Linked DNA regions of Homo sapiens: region 1 is linked to region 2. A link means that fine-mapping ties the variant in region 2 to the expression of a gene that starts in the linked region. Tissue or cell type: testis. Region 2 holds a variant in brackets; the other region holds the start of a gene. All regions are shown on one strand. Distances are between the middles of the regions.

The links. PIP is the estimated chance that this variant, and not a neighbour inherited with it, causes the effect.
Region 1: POLR2E starts here. The variant in region 2 is fine-mapped to the expression of POLR2E in testis (GTEx, PIP 0.99).

The regions. Positions count from the first base shown.
Region 1 is chr19:1,090,857-1,098,859 of GRCh38, forward strand. POLR2E (RNA polymerase II, I and III subunit E) reads right to left here and starts at 4,519. Exons shown (of 8, transcript NM_002695.5): 1 at 4,403-4,519; 2 at 3,048-3,222; 3 at 936-1,051; 4 at 52-132. The coding sequence starts at 4,459. RefSeq lists enhancers at 3,170-3,705, 4,463-4,552.
Region 2 is chr19:1,112,099-1,120,101 of GRCh38, forward strand. It overlaps SBNO2 (strawberry notch homolog 2), which reads right to left. Exons shown (of 32, transcript NM_014963.3): 12 at 7,808-7,925; 13 at 7,418-7,523; 14 at 6,913-7,066; 15 at 5,225-5,401; 16 at 4,731-4,828; 17 at 3,923-4,005; 18 at 2,133-2,324; 19 at 1,437-1,606; 20 at 720-851; 21 at 304-439; 22 at 91-203. Among named protein-coding and RNA genes, the nearest start is that of GPX4, 12 kb to the left of the region's middle. RefSeq lists enhancers at 1-581, 582-1,501, 4,810-5,323, 5,324-5,836. The variant G/A (reference allele first, on the strand shown) is at 4,241.

The DNA.
Region 1 (8,003 bases), 21 kb before region 2:
GCTGCATCTCTGCCGGCCCCACGCAGGCGGGATTCCGCGGCGCGCGCCCACCTCGTGCTCCGTGATGTTGATGAGCAGCTCCTGCTGCAGAAACTGCTCCAGGATGTACTTGGGGGCCATGTCGACCAGGGACTGGAAGAGAGCGGCTCTAAGGCACGGCCCGGAGGGGCCCAGACAACCCCAACCCCATTTCCTGCCTCAAGCTACCTGGGGCTTACTCGTGTGCCCCAACAACACACCCACGTCGTGAATCAGAAAACCCCACCGCCAGCCCAGGAGCCTTCAACAGCCCGCCCCTCCCCAGCCTCTCTGCTCATCGAGAGCCTCATCCAGCAGTGAAGTGGCCGTGGAAACTCGGATGTGTTTCCATCCATCACACGCTTCCAGGGGCGGCCCTCAGAGCTGGCAGGGCGACCTCTTCCCCATACAGGGGTGCTGCTCTGTGTGGCTGCGTGAACCCCACAGCTGGTGGGCCAGGGACTAAACTGCTCTGCTGACTGCCCGTCACAGCACAGCAGCCTGGCTCCAGAGTGTCCGACAGACAGACGGGGAACACGGATAGGCCCCTGGAGGACCCCGTGCCGGGCCTCCTCTGCAAGTCCCCCTGGACATCAGCTCAGGATAAAGAACCTCCGGCTCCTGGAATCTGCACCAGGCCGAGGGCTGGAGCCCACAGGAGCTGGCGAGAGGCACAGTGCCCTCCGCCCTGACGCCCCTCCTGAGAGCTGGGGGAGGACGGCGGCTGCCTGGGGTGGGGCCCATGGACGCGGTGGGAGGGAGGCGGTCGGGGCTTGCCGGACATCCCGGCCACATCCTCCAGGGCACCCTGGCTGGCCTGGCCCAAAGCCCAAGGCACGTGGGCCGCCTGTGGGTACTGCTTGCGGGAGGAGGCTGGGGAGGGGGAGAGGCTGGCGGGGTGGGGCAGGGGTGCCCACCTGCTTGGCGGAGGGTGTCATGCCCTGCTGCACCACGATGAGAGCCCGTGTGATGTTCTCCTCCTGCATGCGCTGGCAGTACACCTTGATGGTCTTGATGCCCACCTTGGGCTCCTCTGCAGACAGAGAGTGTGCTGGCCTGCACGAGCCTGGGCCCTCGTGGCCCTCGCCCACCCAGAGCCCAGAGCACCCAGGTTCCAGCCCCATTCCACACAGGTGTCTCTCCTGCTCGGGCCTCGGCTTCCGCGTTTGCAAAACGAGGCCTGAGTTGCAGGATCCCAGGACAGGGGAAGAGAGGGCTGAAACCTCTCATTCACCCGGAGACAGGGACAGGGGGCTGACACCCCTCAGTCACCCAGAGACCAGGGAGAAGCAGAGACCTTCGACTCTGAGAGGCTCCCACCCTGGGCAGTTCTGGGGAGGCGGGTGACTCAGCACCAACCTCTCCAACAAGCAGACCTCACACCCCAGGACGCTCTCTTTAAGAAGCATCACCTGAGGCCGGGTGCGGTGGCTCACACCTGTAATCCTAGCACTTTGGGAGGCTGAGGCAGGTGGATCACTTGAAGTCAACAGTTCTAAACCGGCCTGGCCAACATGGTGAAACCCGGTCTCTATTAACAATACAGGATGGGCGCGGTGGCTCGCACCTGTAATCCCAGCACTTTGGGAGGTCAAGGTGGGCAGATCACGATGTCAGGAGATCGAGACCACCCTGGCTAACAAGGTGAAATCCCGTTTCTACTAAAAATACAAAAAATTAGCCCACGCCCGCAGTCCCAGCTACTCGGGAGGCTGAGGCAGGAGAATGGCGTGAACCCGGGAGGCAGAGCTTGCAGTGGGCAGAGATTGCGCCACTGCACTCCAGCCTGGGCAACAGAGCAAGACTCTGTCTCAAAAAAATTAATTAATTAATTAATAAACAATACAAAAAGAAAAAGTAGCCAGGTGAGATGGTGTATGCCTGTAAACCTAGCTTTTTGGGAGGCTGAGGTGGAAGGATTGTTTGAACCTGGGAGGTGGAGGTTGCAGTGAGCTGAGATTGCGCCACTGCACACTCCAGCCTGGGTGACAGAGGGAGACTCAGTCTCAAAAAAAAAAAAAAAAAAAAAGACTGGGCGCGGTGGCTCACGCCTGTAATCCCAGCACTTTGGGAGGCCGAGGCGGGCGGATCACCTGAGATTAGGAGTTTGAAAGCAGTCTAGCCAACATGGTGAAACCTCATCTCTACTAAAATGCAAAGAAAAACTAGCCAGGCGTGGTGGTGGGTGCCTGTAATCTCAGCTACTCAAGCTGAGGCAGGAGAATCGCTTGAACTCAGGAGGTGGAGGCTGCAGCAAGCCGAGATGGCACCACTGCACTCCAGCCTGGGCGACAGATTGAGACTCTTTTTCAAAAAACAAAAACAAAAAAAAAACAAAAAAACCCAGCAGCGTCACCAGGTCCGGTTGGCAGACGTGCTCCGTCACCCCACTGATTAATTCTGGGCGTGGGGCTGCGCCCCTAAGGCGCTTGCAATCCCCCAACCGCTGAGGGCTTTAGAGCCATACTAGGGAGGCAGACAGGTGCGGAGACTTCCGCAAAGCAGGTGCTGAAACCGAGGGTCCCAGGGGTCCTGGGAAAAGAGGCCCGAGCACAAGCTCGAGGGACGAGTACCGGACGCTGACAGGGGAGAGGGGGCATGGGGTGCGGAGGAATGGGCTGGGGCGGGCAGGGGCCGCAGCTCACAAGGAGGCTGCGCTGACCCAGACGGGGCCTCCTGGGCCAGGCCAAGAAGCTGGAAGTGCACCCAACGGCCAGGATGGGGGAGCCAAGGGACACTAGGGCAAAGGACATGGGGGGCTGGGGGTGAGTGGGGAGGCCCTTGTGACTCTCCTCGTTGGCAGGAAGAGAGAAGGGGACTGAGAGGGAAACTAGAAAGAAGCTGAGCATGAGAGGGGTCAGAGATCAACGGCATCACCCACAGCAAGGAAGGGGAGGGGAGTTTTCCTCCCAGACTGGGCAGAGAGACAAATGCTGGGCACCAGGCGAGTGGGGGTGGGTGCTAGCGACCGGCTCCTCGGCAGGTGCTCTGGTGGCTTCACCGGAACTCCCCCGGGACCCGCTGCTCACCTGGAAAGAACACAAACATCTGGTCGGTGGGGTCATCGTTGTGGGCCACCAGCACGGTGAGGTCCGTGCGCCGCGGCCGCCCCTCACTCGGCTTGTCCCCAGATTGGGCTTTGAACTCCTCCAGGGTCTGGTCAAGCTCGTCCTGGGTCACCAGATAGCCACGGTCGTGGCACAGCTGCAGAGAGAAAGAACCAGCTGACCCCAGGGCAGAGAGAGGAAGGCGGCCAAAGCTCGTGACCCGGAAGTCAGACCTGCGGCTGCTGCAGAGGACAGAGGTGAACAGCAAACGGGATGAACACTCACTGTGTGCTCCATGACAGCCACCCCGGCCCCCACAGCCTCACACCACAGGATGGGACCAGTATGATCCTGAGAGGCTCCCAGAGATGTCCAGCCTTGACCAAGACCGTCTGTCCACCCAGCCTCACAGAAACCTGGCAGGGAGCAAAGCCCTCCAAACCACTTTGCAGAGCTACCCTAAAGGCAGGGACAAAGGCGGGGCGCGGAGGCTCACGCCCGTGATCCCAGTACTTAGGGAGGCTGAGGCAGGAGGGTTGCTGGAGGCCAGTTCAAGGATGCAGTGAGCTATGATTGCACCACTGCACTGCAGCCTGGGCGACAGAATGAAACCCTATCTCTTAAAAAAAAAAAATGACAGGGACCGAAACAGATGTGACTTCAGGCTGACAATGTTTGAGGATCGGAGAAAGAAGAATCAGGCTGCGGGGGGCTTCGCTGAGGACAAGGGCAAAGGGTGGGAAGCAAGACAAAGCAAAAGCTCTCAAACGGCCCCAATGGCTGAGGCAATACCCTGAACCGCAGGTCCTCAGGCCTGTGCCCGGCTTCCAAACCGGACTCGACCCAGTGGCCTCCATCTGCCCCAGACCCCAAGGCACGGGTTCCGAGCTCCACGTCCCCATCGAAAGCCCCAGCTCGCCCGCTGCTTCCCAACCACCAACTCTGCCAGCCTCGGATGCTGAAGACTCCATGGGGTTCAGGACGCAAGGACAAATAGCGACGCTGAATCACAGAGAAGGGCAGAGTCTGGGGGCGCCCCCCGTCCCCATTCGCGGCTTCCTCCTCCTCTCGCCGCCACGCGCGCCGCACCAGCCCAAGCCGCCCACCCACCCCTAAGCACCGCACCCAGACGTCTCGAAACCCCCTCCCTTCCCCGCTGCCGGCTCAGGTCGGGTCCAGCGCCTGGTATCCCCGGCGACCTCTGGGCCTCCCGTATCGGCCCGGCCCTTCATCGCTGCTGCTCCGACGAGAGTACGAGGAGACGCCGTGCTCGACCCCACCTCGGGCCCCTACACCCGCCGCCCGCGCCCCCGCCCCCAACACCAGGCGCGGCTCACCTGCATGATGGTCTTGCGGATTTTCCAGAGCCGGTACGTCTCCTCCTCGTCGTCCATGGCAGCCTCCGCCGCCGCCGCCGCTCGCACCCCTTCTCCGCGCGAGAACCCGCGCGGACTGCGCCTGCGCCGAATCCGAATCAGGCCCCCTCCGCCTAACCCCGCCCCGCGCTGGTCTGTCGTCGGCGAATGCCTGAATGCAGCAACGTCTCGGATCGGCAGCGCCAAGGGCAGCCCGAGCCTTACGAGAGCGGCAGTTGGCTGAGCGAGTCTCTCGCCTCCGTAGTTCTCGTGTGTCTTTGGCCGCACAGCCTCTCGGGAGTTGTAGTTTCCGTTCAACTCCCACCTTGGAGCAACAGTTTAGAATCCCACGAGGCGGGGGCGAAGTGTGAGCGGGGAAACTGAGGCCTGGATGGGGTCAAGGGGCAGCTCGGCTCCTAGGGATGGTCTGGGAGCCTAGTGGGAACTCTATAAATATTTGTGCATCAAACTGTACAGGGTTTCCTCCATTGGCTCCTGGCCAGGTCAGGGTTAATTCCCTTGGGCCTCAGTTTCCCTACCTGTGCAATGGCAATAAAGTGTCCCTACTTTAGACGGTTAACTGAGAGTCTTAGGCATCTCTCTAGGTGCTTATTAAGTCCCCTCACCTCTGTCCTCTCCCCTGAGCGCCACCAGCCTAGCCTGGGTATCTCCCCAGCCTAGCCTGGGTATCTCCCCACCCCAGACTCTTCCTGTCTTTGCAAACCTCCTCACTTCCCCAGGTTCACGGAGAACCCCAGCCCAACACTTCCTGTGTGCAGGCTATCAGTAACTTATTCAGTGATGCATTCGTTAATTCAACATTTACTCAGCAACCTACAGTGATGGTGAATAAAACAGGCCAAGTATCCCTTGCATTCAGATAAAGACAGGATTTAGTAAAATATAATAAATAACGTGGCCGGGCGCGGTGGCTCATGCCTATAATCCCAGCACTTTGGGAGGCTGAGGCGGGCAGAGCATGAGATCAGGAGTTCAAGACCATCCTGGCTAACACGGTGAAACCCCGTCTCTACTAAAAATACAAAAAATTAGCTGGGCCAGGTGGCAGGTGCCTGTAGTCTCAGCTACTTAGGAGGCTAAGGCAGGAGAATCTCGTGAACCTGTAAGGTGGAGGTTTCAGTGAGCCAAGATCGTGCCACTGCACTCCAGCCTGGACAACAGAGCAAGACTCTGTCTCAAAAATAAAATGAAATGAAATAAAATAAAATAAATAACAACGTTAGAAAGTGACAAAGCTACGGAAGAAGAAAGAGCAGGGAGGCTAAGTGACATGGGGAGAATGGGAGAACTGCAGTATCACATGGGGAGGTCAGGGAATACAGTGAGGATAGATTCAAGCAAAAATCCCATTAGCAGTGGTGGCTCATCACTGTAATCCCAGCACTTTGGGTGGCCGAGGCAGGCAGAGCATGAGATCAGGAGTTCCAGACCAGCTTGGCCAACATGGTGAAACCCTGTCTCTACTAAAAATACAAAAATTAGCCAGGTTTGGTGGTGGGTGCCTGTACTCCCAGTTACTCGGGAGGCTGAGGCAGGAGAATCACTTGAACCCGGGAGGCGGAGGTTGCAGTGAGCCGAGATCGCACCACTGCACTCCAGCCTGGGTGACAGAGCAAGACTCCATCGAGAAAAAAAAAAAAAAATCCCATTGGGCGCGATAGCTCACACCTGTAATCCCAGCACTTTGGGAAGCTGAGAGGGGAGGATCCCTTTGTTGTAGTTTTGTAATTTTTAGTTGTAAGTCACGGACTTTTTTACACTGATATTTGAGATTCTTTTTGGGGGGCTGTCAGGGGCTACTTTTTTTTTTTTTCCTGACACGGAATCTCGCTCTGTCCCCCAGGCTGGAGTGCAGTGGCAGGATCTCGGCTCACTGCAAGCTCCACCTCCCGGGTTCACGCCATTCTTCTGCCTCAGCCTCCCGAGTAGCTGGGACTACAGGCACCTGCCACCACGCCCGGCTAATTTTTTGTATTTTTAGTAGAGACGGGGTTTCACCGTGTTAGCCAGGATGGTCTCCATCTCCTGCCCTCATGATCCGCCCGCCTCGGCCTCCCAAAGTGCTGGGATTACAGGTGTGAGCCACCCCGCCCGGTCTGTGCAGGCTTTCTTATCTAACTACCTAACTTTTCTTTCTCACCTTGAGGCCAGGAGTTTGAGACAAGCCTAGGCAACATAGGAAGACCCCATTTCTTTTTTGTTGTTGTTGTTGTTTTTTGAGACCGAGTCTCGCTCTGTTGCCCAGGCTGGAGTACAGTGGCATAATCTCAGCTCACTGCAGCCTCCGCCTCCTGGGTTTAAAGGATTCTCCTGCCTTGGCCTCCCGAGTAGCTGGGATTACAGGCGTGAGCCACCACACCTGGCTAATTTTTTTGTATTTTTGGTAGAGATGGGGTTTCACCATGTTAGCCAGGCTGGTCTTGAACTTCTGACCTCAGATCATCTGCTTGCCTCGGCCTTCCGAAGTGCTGAGATTACAGGCGTGAGCCACCGCACCCGGCCAGGAAGACCCCATTTCTACAAAAAAATTTAAAAATTAGCTGGGCGTGGTGGGCGCACCTGTAGTCCCAGTTACTCGGGAGGCTGAGGTGGGAAGATCTAGGATCGCCTGAGCCCAGCGGTTGAGGCTGCAGTGAGCTGTGATTGCGCCACTGCACTCTAGCCTGGGCGACAGAGCAAGACACTGTCTCCAAACAAACAGAAAACAAACAAAAACCAGAAGAGGAGAGGGAGGAAACCTGGGGTTGCCTGGGGATAGCTGTATCAGGCAGACAGCACAGCCAGGATAGAGGCTCTGGGGCTGTGCCTCACCTGGAGTGTTCCTGGCAGGGAAGGGGCAGGAGGGGGTCAGAGGGCAAGGTGGGGCAGGTCCCATGAAGCCTTGCTGGTCAGGGTAAAATGTCTGGAGCTGCTGTGTTGGGAAATGACTGTTGGGAGCCAGGGCAGAAGCAAGAGACCAGGGAGGGAGTGGGAAGGCAAACTTGCCACAGGTTGGGGTGGCTCCAACTACGGTAGGGGCAAGCACAGAGCGGGGAGGGTGCCACAGGGCGAGAAAAAGAGGGAGAAAGGGAACAAAGCTGTCCCTGTGAGCAGTGAAAAGAGGGGTGGGAGGGTGGAGGCGTGTAGGTCGAGGTGAGCTCTGGAGTTCAGGGCAAGGTCTGGGGGATGGACGTGCAGGCAGGGTGGCCACGTGGTGAAGATTAGAGCCGGGAGCCTGGACCAGGTCCTGGGAGCAGAGCAGAGTCCAGGAGAGTAAGTCCAGCCCTGCTGGTGTTCAGAAGCCCGGAGAAGGAGGGGAGGCAGCAGCAGGAGGGGAGGGAGGCTCAGCACAGACACTGGAGCAGCCCCTGAGCTGCAGACCTGGCTGTGTGATCTCAGGCAGGTTACTCAACCTCTCTGTGCGTCCCCTCTCCCCTCCCTTGTAAAACAGGGACAAGAACAGCACCCACTTCGTAGGGTAATTGGCTAATAATTGCAATGTACACAGAGTGGCGCCTGACACCAGCACTGCATAAGTGTTCCCTAAATAGGATAAAGGGCAGGAGGTTGCCAGGTCTCCTGG
Region 2 (8,003 bases):
ACCTGGGGTCTGGCCTCTAGCACCCCACAAAGCTTTGGAGAGCCTTCCTGGGCCTGTCCCTGGTTCTCAGCCCCACCCCCACCTGCTCACCAGACTCTCCAGGCGCTTGGCCACGATGGAGGCGAACCGGCGCTCCCCGGCCAGCTCCGAGATGAGGAAGACATACTCTGGCGCGGAGACCTGGTTGGACCGGTGGGTGCGGCCTGGGGGCAGAGCTGCTCTCAGGGCCCGGCCAGGCGGGGGCGGGGCCGAGACCATGTTGGGGGCGGGGCCAGGCAGCGCTGGGGGCGGGGCCGGACTCACCGAACTGCTGGATGGCGCGGTCGGCGCTCCACGGCAGCTCCAAGGTCATGTGCACGCGGCGCCGCTGGTTCTGGACACGGCGGTCGGCTTGGAGGGAGACACCCGAGCTGGAGGCCTCCGAGATGATGGCCACGAGCTAGGGGGAAAGAAGGGGCCGGGACACGGTTGGTGCAAGGCCCGCCCCAGCGTTGCCGCCACCTCCTCACCCACTAGGCCCCCGCTCCAGGTCACCAGGACGTCCCGGGGCAGCGAGAGGCCTGCGGGGCGCGGACACCACCCGCCACACGGCCACTCGCGCCCGCACCTGGCACACACACACTCCAGAAGTGCGCGGGTCCACAGTCCCCGGGGACCCTTGGGCCCCTCTGTGCCTCTTGGGTCCCGTGGGCCGCGCCCAGTGCACTGCAGCCCCGCACCTTCTCGCCGCTCATGAAGCGCTGCTTCTCCCTGAGGTTCACGTGGTCGATGGACAGACCCTGCTCTGCCCGCGACTCGAAGGCCACCGTCCCGTCGGGCCTGGACACCACGCGGCCTTTCCTGCCGGTCATCTGCAGCCGAGACAGGGACAAAACCGGCCGTCAGTGTTGTGGCCTCGCAGGAGTCTGGCCACCCGTGTCTCAGCTTCCCTATGTCCTACAGTGGTCATGGGCTCCCAGCTGTGCACGGGAGGTGGGGGTGCTGGGAAAGGGAGGGCGGGACTGCTGGACCCAGGCGATGTGTGCCTGTCCAAGGCCTGGTATTATCAGCCAGCCGGCGCCACGAAGTGAAAAAGTGAAGCTGGGCGGGGGCAGGGAGTAGGAGGCCGCAGAACCAGGCCCAGGGGCTTGTGTCCTGGCCCTGGGCACCCCAAGGGGTGCGTTCAGGCAACGATCTAAGCAGAGGCCTGCGCAGGCCAGGCTGGGGGATCTGGGGCTTAGAGGGATGGGGCAGGCCGTCCACAGGAGGTCGTGGCCTCCCGGGCCGAGCTGGACAGCACGCTGCTGCCCCAGGGCTCCCCAAACGCCCCCTCCTCGCAGGGCCGCGGAGACGCAGAGTGACCAGCAGGGGCCACCAGAGCTGCACACAGCCTGCGTGAAGCCCCACCCACTGCCCATGCCCCGCCCACCACACTCCAGCTGCCACGTCCCACCCACCTCCGCCACCCGCTGGGGGCCGCCCAGCTGGTCGATGAGCTCGTCCAGGGTGTTGACTGGCAGTTCCCGGCCCAGCCGCCGCACTTTGTCCAGCAGATCCTGCTTCAGCCGCTCCACCCGCTCCAGGACCCCGGGGCCATGCGGGTCTCTCTGCAGGAGGCACAGGGGTCCTAGGGAGGAGGTGGAGGGTCAGGGCAGGACATGTTGGCTGCCTTCTAGGGCCCACCTAACTCAAGGCTGGCCCCTGGAGGGCAAGGACAAGGGGCCCGGGGCAACCCTGAGGGACGGCAGGGTGGCGGGGAAGCCCGGCACCGTGGCCCAGGACTGCTTTTCTGCACTTGTCTCCCTGAGACCAGCTGGGGCGAGACTAAGCCTCCTGTCGCGGACCAAACACTGTGACCTCACTGCCTCCACAGGGGTAGGGACTGCCCAGCCCCAAGCCCCAGCTCTGCCTCTGACCAGTGGTATAACCCCTGACCTCCCCTCTCTGGGCCTCAGTTTCCCCCATCTGTAAAGTGGGCACCATAGCAGCAGCTGGGCTCAGGTGGGCTGGACTGAGGGCTACAACCTGGGGTGGGTGGTGACCGCCAGGAGGCCGGGGGAGCCTCAGGCTGGAATCCTGACCCAGAGGTGGCTGCTCAGCCTGGACTGGAATCCTGACCCACAGGTGGCTGGCCAGCCTGGGCAAGCCCTCACCCCGGTCGTCACTGGGGAGCCCGACTGCATCAACGATGACAACGTCGTCATCCACCAGGGACTCGGGGGAGGAGTTGAAGTCGCTGTCCAGGCCAGGGTCCGACTCCGTGCTGCTGTCGTCACTGATGCGGATGACGCCCGCTGTCTCGCACGCCAGCCGGGGGGCTTTGGCCCCGCGTCCCCGAGGTCGCCCTGCAGGGAAGGACAGGGTCACCGAGGGCCAGACCGCAGCAAGGTGGAGGAGCAGGTGGAGGAGACGCAGCAGGACAGAGCAAGGCCAGTGGTCCGAGCTGGGGAGGTCCATCCGAGAACCCCCTGCCTCTGGGCAAGCAGCTCAGCTGTTCTCCAGGGACGCCCTCTAGGGAACCCCGTGCCCTGTGGCCAGGAGGGTACGGTGTGGGGGGCCATATTTTATTTATTTATTTTCTTTTGAGACGGAGTCTTACTCTGTCGCCAGGCTGGAGAACGGTGGCATCTCACTGCACTCTCTGCCTCCTGGATTCAAGCGATTCTCCTGCCTCAGCCTCCTGAGTAGGTGGGATTACAGGCGCCCACCACCACGCCTGGCTAATCTTTTGTATTTTAGTAGAGATGGGGTTTCACCATGTTGGCCAGGATGGTGTCGATCTCCTGACCTCGTGATCCACCTGCCTCAGCCTCCCAAAGTGCTGGGATTATAGGCGTGAACCACCACGCCTGGCTTATTTATTTATTTTTGAGATGGAGTTTCACTCTGTTGCCCAGGCTGGAGTGCAGTGGTGCGATCTCAGCTCACTGCAACCTCCACCTCCCGGGTTCAAGCAATTCCCCTGCCTCAGCCTCCTGAGCAGCTGGTATTACAAGCATGCACCACCACACCTGGCTAATTTTTCTATTTTTAGTAGAGATGGAGTTTCACCATGTTGGCCAGGCTGGTCTCAAACTCCTGGCCTCAGGTGATTTGCCCGCCTCAGCCTTCCAAAGTGCTGGGATTACAACAGGCGTGACCCACTGCACCTAGCCAATATTTTATTTTTATTAATTTTTTTGAGACAAGAGTTTTTTCTGTCACCCAAGTTGGAGTGCAGTGGCATGATCTCGGCTCACTGCAATCTCCACCTCTCAGGTTCAAGCGATTCCCCTGCCTCAGCCTCCCAAGTAGCTGGGATTATAGGCGTCCACCACCACGCCCAGCTAATTTTTGTATTTTTAGTAGAGACAGGGTCTCACCATGTTGGCCAGGCTGGTCTTAAACTCCTGACCTCAGGTGATCCACCCGCCTCGGCCTCCCAAAGTGCTGGGATTACAGGCGTGAGCCACCACGCCCAGCCAACGGGACAATATTAATAAACCCATATCCAACGTCCTTTCAGGCCTGGCCAGTATGGTGGACACGCGGGGTGCCTGGGGAGGCCACACACCAGACTTCGACAGGCAGCTCTGGGCTTCCCTGTGACAGAAGCCTGGGGGTTATCAATGGGCTCCCCAAGGGACCGTGGAGACCCTGAAAACGGAAGGTGGGAGGGGTCTCGCTCAGCACCCGCGTCCGTGTCCCGCCCCCCGGGTCTCGCTCGGCACCCACGTCTGTGTCCTTCAGGCTGTCTGTTGCTTCCTCTTCCCTAAGCGTTCCATGGCAGGGTCCACGCAAGACCTGCCACTGGCAGCGGAGCCTTGAGCCTGCCTGGCACGGACAGGACCTGCATTTGGCTGAGTGGACGGGGGAGTGGGGGAAGCAGGGAGCGACCAGCCAGCCCCCGGGGGGAGAAAGCAGAGGGGCAGGGGTGGGTGGGGCCATGGGGGGCAGGGCTTACGTTTCCGCTTGCTGCCCGCTCCTCTGTCCCGCTTTCTCTTGGTGGACGGAAAGTGCTTCTGAATTAGCGACAGGAACACGCCTCTGAAAGTGAGACGCGGAGTTTATTCTCACACGAGGAGCTGAGGCCAGGCGGGGTTGCTCTCCAGGAGCTGGACGCACCCCTGGGTCCCTGTGGGGGTCCCGGACAGGACCGGGCCTGGGCAGAGGGTCTCCTGTGTGGAGTGGGCTGGGGAGGACTGGGGGCTGCCTGTGAGCTCTCCTCTGGCCTCCTGGTGTCACAGGGCCACCTCGGCCACCAGGCTTCCCCCGCTCTGAG[G/A]AATGTGGCCGGATATGATGATGGCTCCCAGGACAGGGGCAGGGGGCAGGGTGAAGGGGTAGCTGGGGGCATTGGGGAGCTCCGACCCCCAGGCAATGGGGGGATCTAGGGGGGCTGCTGTGACCCTCCCGGGGCATTCTCAACCAACAGGGGAGAGGCTGGGGCTTCAGACAGCTGGGAGGGCCAGCCCCTAAAATCCACAGCCCCCTTGTTAAAACGGCACAGATGCAGGAAGCCTCCTTCTGAGACCCCTGGAGACCATGTCCCAAACCTTCCAGGCCCACCATGCCTGGGGTCCACCTCCAAGCCTCTGCTTTAGACCTGGAGCAGCGGTGAAGGCCTCTGTGGCTGAGGCTGGGGGCCCAGCAAAGCCCACCCCAGCACCTCCTGCTGCTGGGGCCAAGGGGCAGGGTCAGGCCACAGGTGGCCACAGAGAGGGGTGGCCATGAGCGCAGGAAGCCCACAGTCCTGTCCCCACCGTGACACTTACTCAGCGGCCGAGACGAAGCAGTTGAGGTGCCCATCGTTCTCCCCCAGCACCTCCCGCGTGCGCGCCTCGCCCGTGGACTGCAGCCCGATGACCACGCACTGTGGGACGGCAGAGGACTGTGAGCCACCAGCCCTGCTGTGGGGCCTCTGTGGGGCCAGAACCTGCCAGGCCTGGGGTGATGGCCACATCCCTCACTCTGCTGCTGTGCTCGCCTCCCCAGGAGGGGCCACGGCCCCCCTACAACACACACTGCTGGGTGGGGGTCTGCCGGCTGCCTGTCTCGGGATGGTGAGCTGCCCACTGTGTGGTCACACTCCGCTGTTCTGACACCCTGGCTGGCTCTGATTGGAAGACGGACATCCGGGCGTCTCTCACCCACCAGGGTGCAGCCCCCGCCCACGTCTGGGGAGGGGCCAGGAAGGACCTGGAAGAAGAGCAGCCTCCGCCCCTGCAGGCCCGGCCGCCCTCAGCCCTCGAAGGCCGCAGCCGCTCACCTTGTCTCGCGCCAGCTCCTCTCGGGCCAGCTCCACCAGCCGGCGCACCTTGGCTGCGATGCACAGATACTTGAAGAAGCGCTGGTGTGCCGACCAGAACTGGCCCCACAGGGACTTGCGCGACTCCAGGCCGATCCAGTCGGCCGCCTGCTGGAACACGTTCAGGGCCTCGGCCCACTGCAATGACACGTCACAAGGCGCCCCTGAGCTGTGGCTCCTGGCTCCCGACCCGGGCCCCGGCCCACCTGCCGCCAGCCCTGGGCAAGGCATCCCCACGCCAGGTGGAATTTAGGGCAGGATGGGGGTGCTGGGGGTGTGCACTGTAAGAGGCACTGCCTCTACCTGTACGGCAAAAACCTGAAAAACCAAAACACTCGTGGTGGGGAAGCCGTGCTGCAAACTGCACAGACTCCGCGCCCGCGGCAAACAGGCTCAGCTCCTTCCAAGAACACAGGGTGCTCGCAGCCACGCCTCTCTTGCTTTGGACCAGGGTCTCACCCAGGTGTGATCCTGTCCAGGGGACACTGGGCATGTCTGGGGCTGGCTGTGGTGGTCAGGTTTGGGGGCTGGTCCCGGCATGACTGGGTGGGCTGGGTTAGGGTGGCTGGGACTCTGGCCACGGATGCTGCTCCATACCCCAAAGTGCTCAGGACGGCCCCACCCCGGAGAGCAACCCGGCCCTGGGGGTTACGGGAGATGCTGGTTGTGTCACCTAAAGAAACGAGTGAAGAGGCTGGGTGTGGTGGCTCACGCCTGTAATCACAGCACTTTGGGAGGCTGAGGCGGTCAGATCGCCTGAGCTCAGGAGTTTGAGACCAACCAGCCTGACCAACATGGAGAAATCCTGTCTCTACCAAAAATATAAAATTGGCCGGGCTGGTGGCACATGCCTGTAACCCCAGCTACGCGGGAGGCTGAGGCAGGAGAATTGCTTGAATCTGGTAGGCGGAGGTTGCGGTGAGCCAAGATCGTGCCATTGCACTCCAGCCTGGGCAACAAGAGTGGAAACCCCGTCTCAAAAAATAAAAAAAAAAAACCATCGAACATACAGGGCTGTTGGGCGTGAGGGGGAGAAAACAGGACCTGTCCAAACATGGAGGGAACGACCAAGCCACATGGCCCACAGCAATGTGGATGCTGAACACGGCTACCAACTGCCAGCTGTGGGCCAGGACCTGGGGGCAAAGGGCTTGGGCACCACAGGAAGGGGGGCGGTGGTTTGGTCCCATCCCTCGTTATCACAGCCACATAAAAACCCCAGTGATGGCCGGGCACGTGGCTCACGCCTGTCATCCCAGCACTGTGGGAGGCCGAGGCGGGCAGATCACTTGCGGTCAGGAGTTTGAAACCAACCTGGCCAACATGGAGAAACACCGTTCTCTACCAAAAAATACACAAAATTAGCTGGGTGTGGAGGCGGGCACCTGTAACTCCAGCTACTCGAGAGGCTGAGGGGGGAGAATCGCTTAAACCCAAGAGGCAGAGGTTGCAGTGAACTGAGATCACACCACAGCACTCCAGCCTAGATGACAGCACGAGACTGTCTCAAAAAAACAACAAAAAAAAAACCCCAGGACAGGACAGGGCGGGCCGTCACCTGATGACGCCTGTGGCATCTGCAAGGCCACGGGGGAGCAATTTCACCCGGGAAACGCACAGGGGTCCCCGGGTCGGGTGCGCAGGCTCACCAGCAGGGCCGCGCGGTTGTAGACGCACTCGAAGGCTGGGGCCAGCGGGATCTCCTCGATGCGGAAGGTGACGCCGGAGAAGCTGAGCTGGCGTGCGATGTACATGCCGCTGACCTTCATGTCCATGGCCACGATCTCCATGGCGCCAACGCCCCTGCGGATGGACACAGCCCCCGTGAGCACGGCCAGAGCCCGTGGGGATGGAGCCACTCGGAGCGCGAGGCAGAGCCAGTCGCAGAGAGGGCGGGGTCGGCAGGAGCAGAGCCCTGGCGGCCACTGAGGCAGTTGGCAGCTGAGCCTGGCGGGGACGGGGCAGGAAGGGCTGCGGAGGGGCTGGCTTCCCTGGGAGTGCTGGGCAGCCCGAGGCAGTGAAACGAGCGACCCACATTCAGCACCTCTGGGTGCTGGGGAAGCACACGTGGCAGTGCCAGGCCTTGGGCTGATGGGCCTGAGGCCTCCTCCCCACCCCCCGCCGCCCCTCCACGTGGGTGAGAAGGGCACTCACCTCTTCTCGATGGCGTGCAGGAACTCCTCAAAGTTCCGGAAGGGTGTGCCCTCGCCCCAGATACCCAAGCGGCTCATGTAGATCATGTTCCGAGGCTCAGAGGCACCTGTGGGGGGAAGCTGCCGTCAGCTCCCCAACCCGGGAGGGCCCAGAGGCCGCGTCAGGGGACGACTAAGTTGGGACCACCCGACGAGGGGCCCTGCGGGGTTGGAGCCATGGGCCTGAAGAGAGCCAGCGTGGCCTTGGGACAGGCGCAGAGGTGCCCCAGTGTCCGAGGAGGAGCAGGGTGCAGACGGAGGCTGAGTACGCGTGTGGGATACCCCTTCGCGGGGACAGCCAGGCAGAAAGACGCTGCTGCGGGTGGGTCACGTGGGATCCGCACCGCCCCACCTGTGGCGCTGGCGTAGACCACGCGGGCCAGGGGCAGCTTGTTCTGCAGGTCTAGCACAGCCTTGCCCATCTTGGTGGAGCCGGCATTCTTGGCTTTGTGACACTCGTCGAACACGATCTGAGGCACACGTGGGTTAAGGAGTATTCTGAAGGACGGGGGCGACCCCAGGAGCCCAGGTCCTGACCACCCAAGACC